3 separate regions of the Homo sapiens genome follow, and regions 2 and 3 are each linked to region 1. Evidence: fine-mapped expression QTL. A gene starts in region 1. Each other region holds a variant in brackets. All regions are shown on one strand. Distances are from middle to middle. Region 1 holds the start of CDC42SE2 (CDC42 small effector 2). Region 2 overlaps LOC105379173 (a long non-coding RNA gene). Region 3 overlaps LOC105379173 (a long non-coding RNA gene).

What was found. PIP is the estimated chance that this variant, and not a neighbour inherited with it, causes the effect.
Region 2: its variant is fine-mapped to the expression of CDC42SE2 in whole blood (INTERVAL, PIP above 0.99).
Region 3: its variant is fine-mapped to the expression of CDC42SE2 in whole blood (TOPMed, PIP above 0.99).

Annotation. Positions count from the first base shown.
Region 1 is chr5:131,262,519-131,265,280 of GRCh38, forward strand. CDC42SE2 (CDC42 small effector 2) reads left to right here and starts at 1,535. Exons shown (of 5, transcript NM_001375635.1): 1 at 1,535-1,648. RefSeq lists enhancers at 819-868, 1,997-2,762 and silencers at 989-1,058, 1,069-1,118, 1,149-1,798.
Region 2 is chr5:131,401,199-131,403,960 of GRCh38, forward strand. LOC105379173 (a long non-coding RNA gene) reads right to left here. Exons shown (of 3, transcript XR_007058929.1): 3 at 1-2,762. Among named protein-coding and RNA genes, the nearest start is that of CDC42SE2, 140 kb to the left of the region's middle. The variant A/AAAG (reference allele first, on the strand shown) is at 1,421.
Region 3 is chr5:131,396,956-131,399,717 of GRCh38, forward strand. It overlaps LOC105379173 (a long non-coding RNA gene), which reads right to left. Exons shown (of 3, transcript XR_007058929.1): 3 at 1-2,762. Among named protein-coding and RNA genes, the nearest start is that of CDC42SE2, 130 kb to the left of the region's middle. The variant T/A (reference allele first, on the strand shown) is at 1,190.

The sequences.
Region 1 (2,762 bases):
CAGACAAAAATCCCAGCTTCTACTAGGGAAGGCAGACACTAAAAGCTAAACATATCAGATAAATACAGGCATACCTCAGTATCCGAGGGGGATTGGCTCTAGGACCACGACCAGTACCAAAATCCTCTCAGGTCTCTAATATAAAATGATATAGTATTTGCACATAACCCACATATATCCTCCTGTATAAATTATCTATAGATTACTTATAATACAATGTAAGTGCTATGTAAATAGCTGTTATATTGTATTGGTTTTTATTTGTATTTTTAAATTGTTGTGTTTTTTTTCCCAAATATTTTCCATCTGTGGTTGGTTGAATCCAGAAACGCAGAAGCCATGGATGCGGAGGGCTGACTCTGAATTATAAAGATTGTTACAAGGTGGGAAGTGTCATGGGATGAAAGGAAAAATAGTAAGGTAGGAAAGATGGAGAATTTTTTTTTTTTTTGGAACACGTGTCACTCTGTCCAGCCCAAGCTGGAGTGCAGTGGCCTGATGATGGCTCACTGTAACGTAACTCCTGGCCTCAGCCTCCAGAGTACCTGGAACTATAGGTACACGCCAACACACCAGGGTAATTTTTTTTTTTTTTTTTTGTAGAGACAGGGTCTCGCTATGTTGCCCACTCTGTTCTATTTTGAAGGTACAACCAACAAGCTTTCTTGACAGATTGAAAGTGAAAATGAGAGTATGAGAGGAGTTATGGATGATATAAAGTTTTTGGCCTGAGTAACTAGAAATCCTCGCCATCAACCTAGAATGGGGAAGACCATACATTACTTACAGGTTCGAGAGCTTACTTCAGTGGCATTACGCTATCCTTTTGAACTTACGATAAAGTTTTGTAGGCATTTTGGTGGACTGCTGGCTGCTAGATAGGGCACTCATGTTTCTGATTTCTGAGATATGTAAAATACACACCCAAAGGAATCACAGAAGTCTAGTACATGTGTAATTTTCACGCATTTCAAACCAGGTGGTTTAGCCAGCCTTAAACCAGTTAATGACTGATTGAACGATTCTGACTTTTACATGAAAAAGCAGTGGTCAGAGGATGGGCTCTCAACCGCTACTGAGAGACCCCTCATCCCACAACCGCTCAGCACCCACCCACCCACCCTCGCCTGTGCGCGTCCACCGCCCCACAACGTGCGCAGACGTCGCTCCTCCGCACGGATGTCCGCGGCCCGGGCCGGGGTGGGAAGGGGCTCCCCCACGCTCCCGCCCAGGTTTGGTCGCCATCTTTCGGAGCGTCCTTTCCCGCGAGTGCTGCAGTCCCGGATCTCAGGCGTCCGTTAGCTACAGAGGCCAATTCCTAACCCGCGCGGCTCGAATCCCGGGGGTCCCATCGCCTGCCGGCCGATTCGCCCATGCCGGAGGTACGGCGGGGGCGGGGCCTGGCGGGGGGCGGGGCCAGCACTGCGGTCGCTGCAGCTGCGCAACGGCGCCCGCCCCTCCGGCCGCTCTAGGGGCGCGCGCCGCCTCTCGCTCCGCCCAACCCGCGCGCGAGCCTGGGCGGGGAGGGGGAGCCAGGAAGCTGCGAGCGCGCTGGGGAGCGCAGCTGCAGGCGTTGGGGCGGCAGGAGCCGCGGAGCCGGCGCTGAGAGGGGCTGCGGCCGGAGCGGGCGGCTGAGACAAAGGCGACGGTGAGTGCAATGCCAGCCCCAGTCGCGCGTCGGCCGCCACGCCTCGCCCTCTCGGTCCCTTGGGCGGGGTCCCGAAGCCCCGAACCCTCGTCCCTGAGGGCTCTGGGGTGAGCGCGGCCCGGCCTTGCCAGCCGCGCGCTGCGGGCTGTGGGCTGAGCCTGCGTCTTCCATTTCAGGTTTGGGCGAGGTCCTCATGCCCTAGGACCCTGCCTTTGGTTTTTCTTCTGTTTCCTCTGAGGAATGGTTACACGCTCAGTTCAGAATTCACGGCAGGCGGACAGCTGAGGCAGCCAACTGACCGCCTGATGTAAAATGGAAAGGCAGACCCCCCCCCTCCCCCCAACTTTTCACGTCTGGAAGTCGGGAGGGTGGTGCGAGGGGCGGGCGGGGAGGGCCCGGGGTCTCTAGGTGAGGGTTTCGGGGAGCAAAGACACCTGGCTCCGGAGCTCCGACTCTTCGCCTGAGGCGCCCGACGCGTTCAGTCCGCGGGTCCTGCCGCGGTTCGCCCCGGGCCCCGGGCTTGAAAGCCCTTGGCTACCTCGTCGCGGGAGCTGAGCTACTCTTACAGGTTGTTTTACCCAGTGCTTGCAGCTTTAAGTTGCGATTTTAGGCAACGGGTGTGGTAGGTAGCGGCTCCTTGATGCCGCATTAACAGCTGAAAAAGCGCCCCGATCCGCTGACTTCACTATGTGTAAGAAACAACATTGGGGATTCCTCTTTAGCTTGCAATTATTTTAAATGATAAGCTTTTTTAGGGGAATTTTGGGGGGTGATGTGCAGTTTACAAAATCTAAATGTTTCGTTGAAGGGCCTGGCTTATAGTACGTGCTCAGTAAAGTATTTGTTGAATGAATGAATCTTGAAATATCAGACAAAGCTTATCTCACATCTAGTAAAATTTAGGCACATACTCCTTGATTATGATTAAGGAAAGAATGTCGGCAAACAGTATGTATTTTTGATATACGTTTTTTAGTTTTTGTCCCACATAACATACTGTTGATGAACAGTCCGTTCTTACTCTCAATATTATGAACATAGAAAATATATATCAAATTTGGATTTTCTCTTTTGGTTTGAGAGAAGTTGGTATACATTTTCTGTTTCTTAAAAA
Region 2 (2,762 bases), 140 kb after region 1:
CAAAATAAATCTCCAGAAATCAGTCCTAAAGAACACAGACCTCTGACTTACTTGACAAAGTATGTAAACAACTGTCGGGCTGGGTGTGGTGGCTCACACCTGTAATCCCAGCACTTCGGGAGGCTGAGGCTGGTGTATCACTTGAGGCCAGGAGTTCAAGGCAGCCTGGCCAATGTGGTGAAACCCTCTCTCTACTAAAAAATACAAAAATTAGTTGGGCATGGTGGCACGTGACTGTAGTCTCAGCTACTTAGGAGGCTGAGGCAGAAGAATTGCTTGAACCTGGGAGGCAGAGGTTGCAGTAAGCCAAGATTGCGCCACTGCACTCCGGCCTGGGTGACAGAATGAGACTCTGTCTCAAAACAAAACAAAAACACCACAAGTATCTTAAATATGTGCTCAGTAAGCTAAAATAGAACACAACTTAATAAAATTAGGAAAACAATTTATGAGCAAAATGAGAATATTAACAGATAATTTTTTTTTTTTTGAGACAGAGTTTCTGTCGCCCAGGCTGGAGTGCACTGGCGCGATCTCAGCTCACTGCAAGCTCCGCCTCCTGGGTTCAAGCAATTCTCCTGCCTCAGCCTCCCGAGTAGCTGGGATTACAGGCATGTGCCACCGTGCCCAGCTAATTTTTTTTTTGTATTTTTAGTAGAGATGGGGTTTTACCATGTTGGCCAGGATGGTCTCGATCTCTTGACCTCATGATCCCCACCTCGGCCTCCCAAAGTGCTGGGATTACAGGCATGAGCCACCATGCCTGGCTGAGAAATTTTTTTAAAAGCCAGATTCTGGAGCTGAAAAATGCAATTGTTGAATTGAAAAATTCTCTAGAAGACTCGAAGCAGAAGGAATCAGCAAACTTGAAGACATGACATTTGAAGGTGCTGAATCAGGTACAAAAAGAATGAAGAAAAGTGAAGAGTTTCTAAGGGACTTAAGGGACACTATCAAGCCAACCAATATATACATTAAAAGGGTCTCAAACGGAAGAAAGAGAGAAAGGGGAAAAGACCTTATGTGAAAAATATAATGTCTGTAAATTTCCCAGCTTTGAGGAATGAAATGGAAATATAAATATGAGAGGCTCAATTAACAAGTAGGAGACCTACACTGAGAAACATTATAATCAAAAAGCAAAGACAAAGAAGAAATCTTGAAAGCAGCAAGTAAAATGCAATGCAAAATCCTGAACAAAATGCTAGTAAATAGATTTCAACAGCACATTAGAAGGATTACACACCATGACCAAGTGGGATTTATTCCTGGAATACAAGAATGGTTCAATATAGGAAAATCATTCAATATAAAGATACCACCATTTGCAGAATGAAAGAAAAACCCGCATAATCATTTCACGTGATGCAAAAAAAAAAAATCTGACAAAGTTCAACACCCTTTCACAATAAAAACATTC[A/AAAG]AACTAGGAGAAGAAAATTACCTCAATGTAATAAATGCCACATATGAAAAGCCCACAGCAGACATCATACTCAATGGTGAAAGACTGTGAGCTTTTCCTCTATGATCAGGAACAAGACATGGTTGTCTACTTTCATGAGTTCTACTGAACAAAATACTGGAAGTCTTAGCCAGAGCAATTAGGCAAGAAAAAGAAATAAAAGGCATCCAGACTAGAAAAGAAGTTGTAAAATGATCTCTCTTCACAGGCAACATAATCTTATATGTAGAAAAATCCTAATTATTCCATTAGTCCTGACAACACCAAAAGCCTGTTAGAACTAATAAACAAATTCAGCAAGGTTGTAAGGTATAAAAATCAACAGGCAAAAAATTAGTTGTGTCATAACAATAAAAAACCTGAAAAGGAAATTAAGAAAACAATTGTTTGCATTAGCATCAGAAATTTAAAAAAAAATACCTAGGAGTACATTTAACCAAGGAGGCAAAAGACATGTATACTGAAAACTAACAGAATGTTACTGAAAGAAACTAAAGATGACATCAGTACATGAAAACACATACTGTGTTCTTGGATCGGAAGACTTACTGTTGTTAAACTGTTGATACTACACAAAGCAATCCACAGACTTAATGCAATTGGTATCAAAATCCTAATGGTGGCTGGGTGTGGCAGCTCATGCCTGTAATCTCAGAATTTGGGGAGGCCAAGGTGGGAGTATCGCATGAGGCCAGCAGTTTGAGACCAGCCTCAGCAACAAAGCGAGATCCCATCTCTACAAACAAAAATAAAAAATATTTAAAAAATCTTAATGGCATTTTTTGCAGGAAAAAACCAACCCATCCTAAAATGCATATGGAATCTCAAGGGACCCTCAAGAGTGAAAATAATCTTGATAAAGAAGAATGTTGGAAGAAAAAAGATTGTAAGTTTCATCCTTTGTAATTTTAAAACTTATTATAAATCTACAGTAATCAAAACAGTGTGGTACTGGTATAAAGACAAACATATAAACTAATATACAGAATAGAGAGTCCAGATATAAATCCTCCCATGTGTGGTCAAATGATGTTTGTCAAGGGTGCAAGGACCACTCCATGGAGAAAGGACAGTTTTGTTTCTTTACCCCCACAAATGGTGCTGGGATTAGATATCCACATGCAAAAGAATGAAGTCTAATTTTTACCTTATACCATATGTAAAAATTAAAACGGATTAAAGACCTAAACATTAGATTGAAAACTATAGAACTCCTAGAAGACAACATAGAGGGAACAATTTCTTGACATTGGATTTAGCAATGATTTCTTGGATATGATACTGAAAACACTGGAAACCAAAG
Region 3 (2,762 bases), 130 kb after region 1:
CTTTAAGTTATATAAACATATTCATCCTTTTTATGTCTGTGTCTTTCAAATAAATATGTAAGCTGGCAGAGTCCTTTGCCTTAGACACCACGCCTTCCCCCAGAGCCTCCGCTGCTGCTGTGCTCTCCCGCAGGGCTTCATCTGCTGGGCGCTGCTTCCTTAGGGAGTATGTAAAACATTTCAGCTGCTGTTTCTGGGTTTCTGCAAAAAACTGTTTTTACTTTTCAGAAATACTGCAAAGGAAGTAAAAACCACTCTGCTTCTGTCTTTTGGCAAAACCACCCAGATTCCAAATGGGGTAATTTTAAGTTCAATCTCTTTCCAATGTCCATAATGTCCATTGTGTCCTATTATCATTTTTCACAAGTGTATGTAGGTTTTGCTCACCTGATTTTCTCTGGATAGGTACAGCGTAAGTGTACCTAATAAGGGACTCGACTGTCCCTCTCTAAATGCAGCCACATCCAATCTGTGCACAATGGAATTAAGGCCACAGACCATCTAAGCCAATAGCATAGAAGGATCTGTTACTCCTAAAACCAGAAACAGAAACAAGCAGTCCTTTGTCCCTTCTTCCCTCTTTTCAATCTGATATTCCTATAGGAAACTAGTATGATCAGATAGACATTTTAGAAAAGTATCAGCTGGGCATGGTGACGCATGTCTGTAGTCCCAGCTACTTTGGAGGGTGAGGCAGATGGATCACTTGAGCCCAGGACTTGGGTCCATCCTGGGCAACATAGCAAGACCCTATCTCTTTTAAAAAAAGAATCTAAGGGTTGGACACAGTGGTTCACGCCTGTCATCCCAACACTTTGGGAGGCCGAGGTGGGCAAATCACAAGGTCAGGAGTTCGAGACCAGCCTGGCCAACATGGTGAAACCCCATCTCTACTAAAAATACAAAAATTAGCCAGGCTTGGTGGTGCACATCTGTAATCCCAGGTACTCAGGAGGCTGAGGCAGGAGAATCGCTTCAACTCAGGAGGCGGAGGTTGCAGTGAGCCAAGATCGTGCCACTACACTCCAGCCTGGGCGACACAGTGACACTCCGTCTCAACAACAACAAAAGAATCTAGGAAATATTCATTCTACTGTGAAGGACACAGTAGAGGGTCAGGCAGTCCAATCTGTGATTAACGGGAGTTTTACAAAAAGCAAGGAAAATGCTCTTCAGAGGAAAAAGATTT[T/A]AAAAAAAAGTCTCTTGAAATTTCAAAAAATTTGTTTTTACATTTATACTTTCTCACTTCACAGCCCTCAAGGACGTTTTGTTCTGAAGACTCTCATATTCAGCTCTGGGAAATAATTATTTCTCTGATTATCCCTTCAACTTTTGAAGATTACCAGATTTCTCAACAGCAATACTGTGGTCTGGAATAAAAGGGGGCACTTCCCTCAGACTTTGGAGAAGACATTATTTTGAACTAGAATTCTGTCTACAGCCATACTCTCAATGAAGTAAGATGGCAGAATAAAGATGATTACACTAGCAATGAATGGCTTTACTTTCCACACACCCATCCTGAAAACACTCTGCAAGAATAGAGAACAAATCCAGTAATAAAATTAAATCTCAGGATTTCTAGGTCTGAAGCCAACCTAGAAGGCATTCTATCCAAATTAGAACAAACAATGAGAGATTTTTAGAACAACTGTTTACAAGAAGCATGATTAAATGGATACCATTCAATAGCAGGAAGATACCATGCATTCAAAACATTTTTTATCGAGCATTATGTGCCCAGGTACTGTTTAGACACTGAGGATACAGCAGTGAACAAATTTCTTAAGCCTCCAAGAGTTTTTATTCTAGTGGGGGGATGCAGAAAGACATTAAGCCAAATAAAGTGAATTATGTAACAGATTAGAAAATGGTAAGTGCTCTGGATAAATAACTGGGGATGTAGGAGAGGAATTGTAGTTTAAAATATCACCGTGCTGAGACAGTGACATTGAAGCTGAGATGTTAGTAATATAGTTAACACATTGTGTTAGGCCTTCTTGCATTGCTATAAAGAAATACCCAAGGCTGGGTGATTTATAAAGAAAAGAGGTTTAATTGCCTCACGCTTCTGCAGGCTTTATAGGAAGCATGGTGCTAGCACCTGCTCAGCTTCTGGGGCATCACATGGCCAGAGCATGAGCAAGAGAGAGAGTTGTGGGGGAGGTGCCACACACTTTTGTTTTTTTTTTGAGATGGAGTCTTGCTCTGCTGCCCAGGCTGGAGTGCAGTGGTGCAATCTCAGCTCACTGCAACCTTCGCTTCTTGAGTTCAAACGATTTTCCTGCCTCAGCACCTGAATAGCTGGAACTATAGGCACGTGCCACCACACCTGGCTAACTTTTGTATTTTTAGTAGAGGCGGGGTTTCACCATGTTGGCCAGGCTGGTCTCCAACTCCTGACCTCAGGTGATCCACCTGCCTCGGCCTCCCAAAGTGCAGGGATTACAGGCATGACCACCGCACCTGGTCAGGTGCCACACACTTTTAAATGACCAGATCTCACAAGAACTCATTATTGCAAAGACAGCACCAAGCCATGAGGGATCTGCCCCAATGACCCAAACACCTCCCATCAAGCCCCACCTCCATCATTGGGAATTACAATTCAACATGAGATTTGGGTGGGGACAAATATCCAAACTGTGTCATACATTTTACCATCAACAAACAAAAAGGAAAGACAATTCTAGATAGGTTTGTCTAAACCAAAAACAGGTCCAAAGATATAACATGATTTTGAGCAATTACTGCGTGTACTC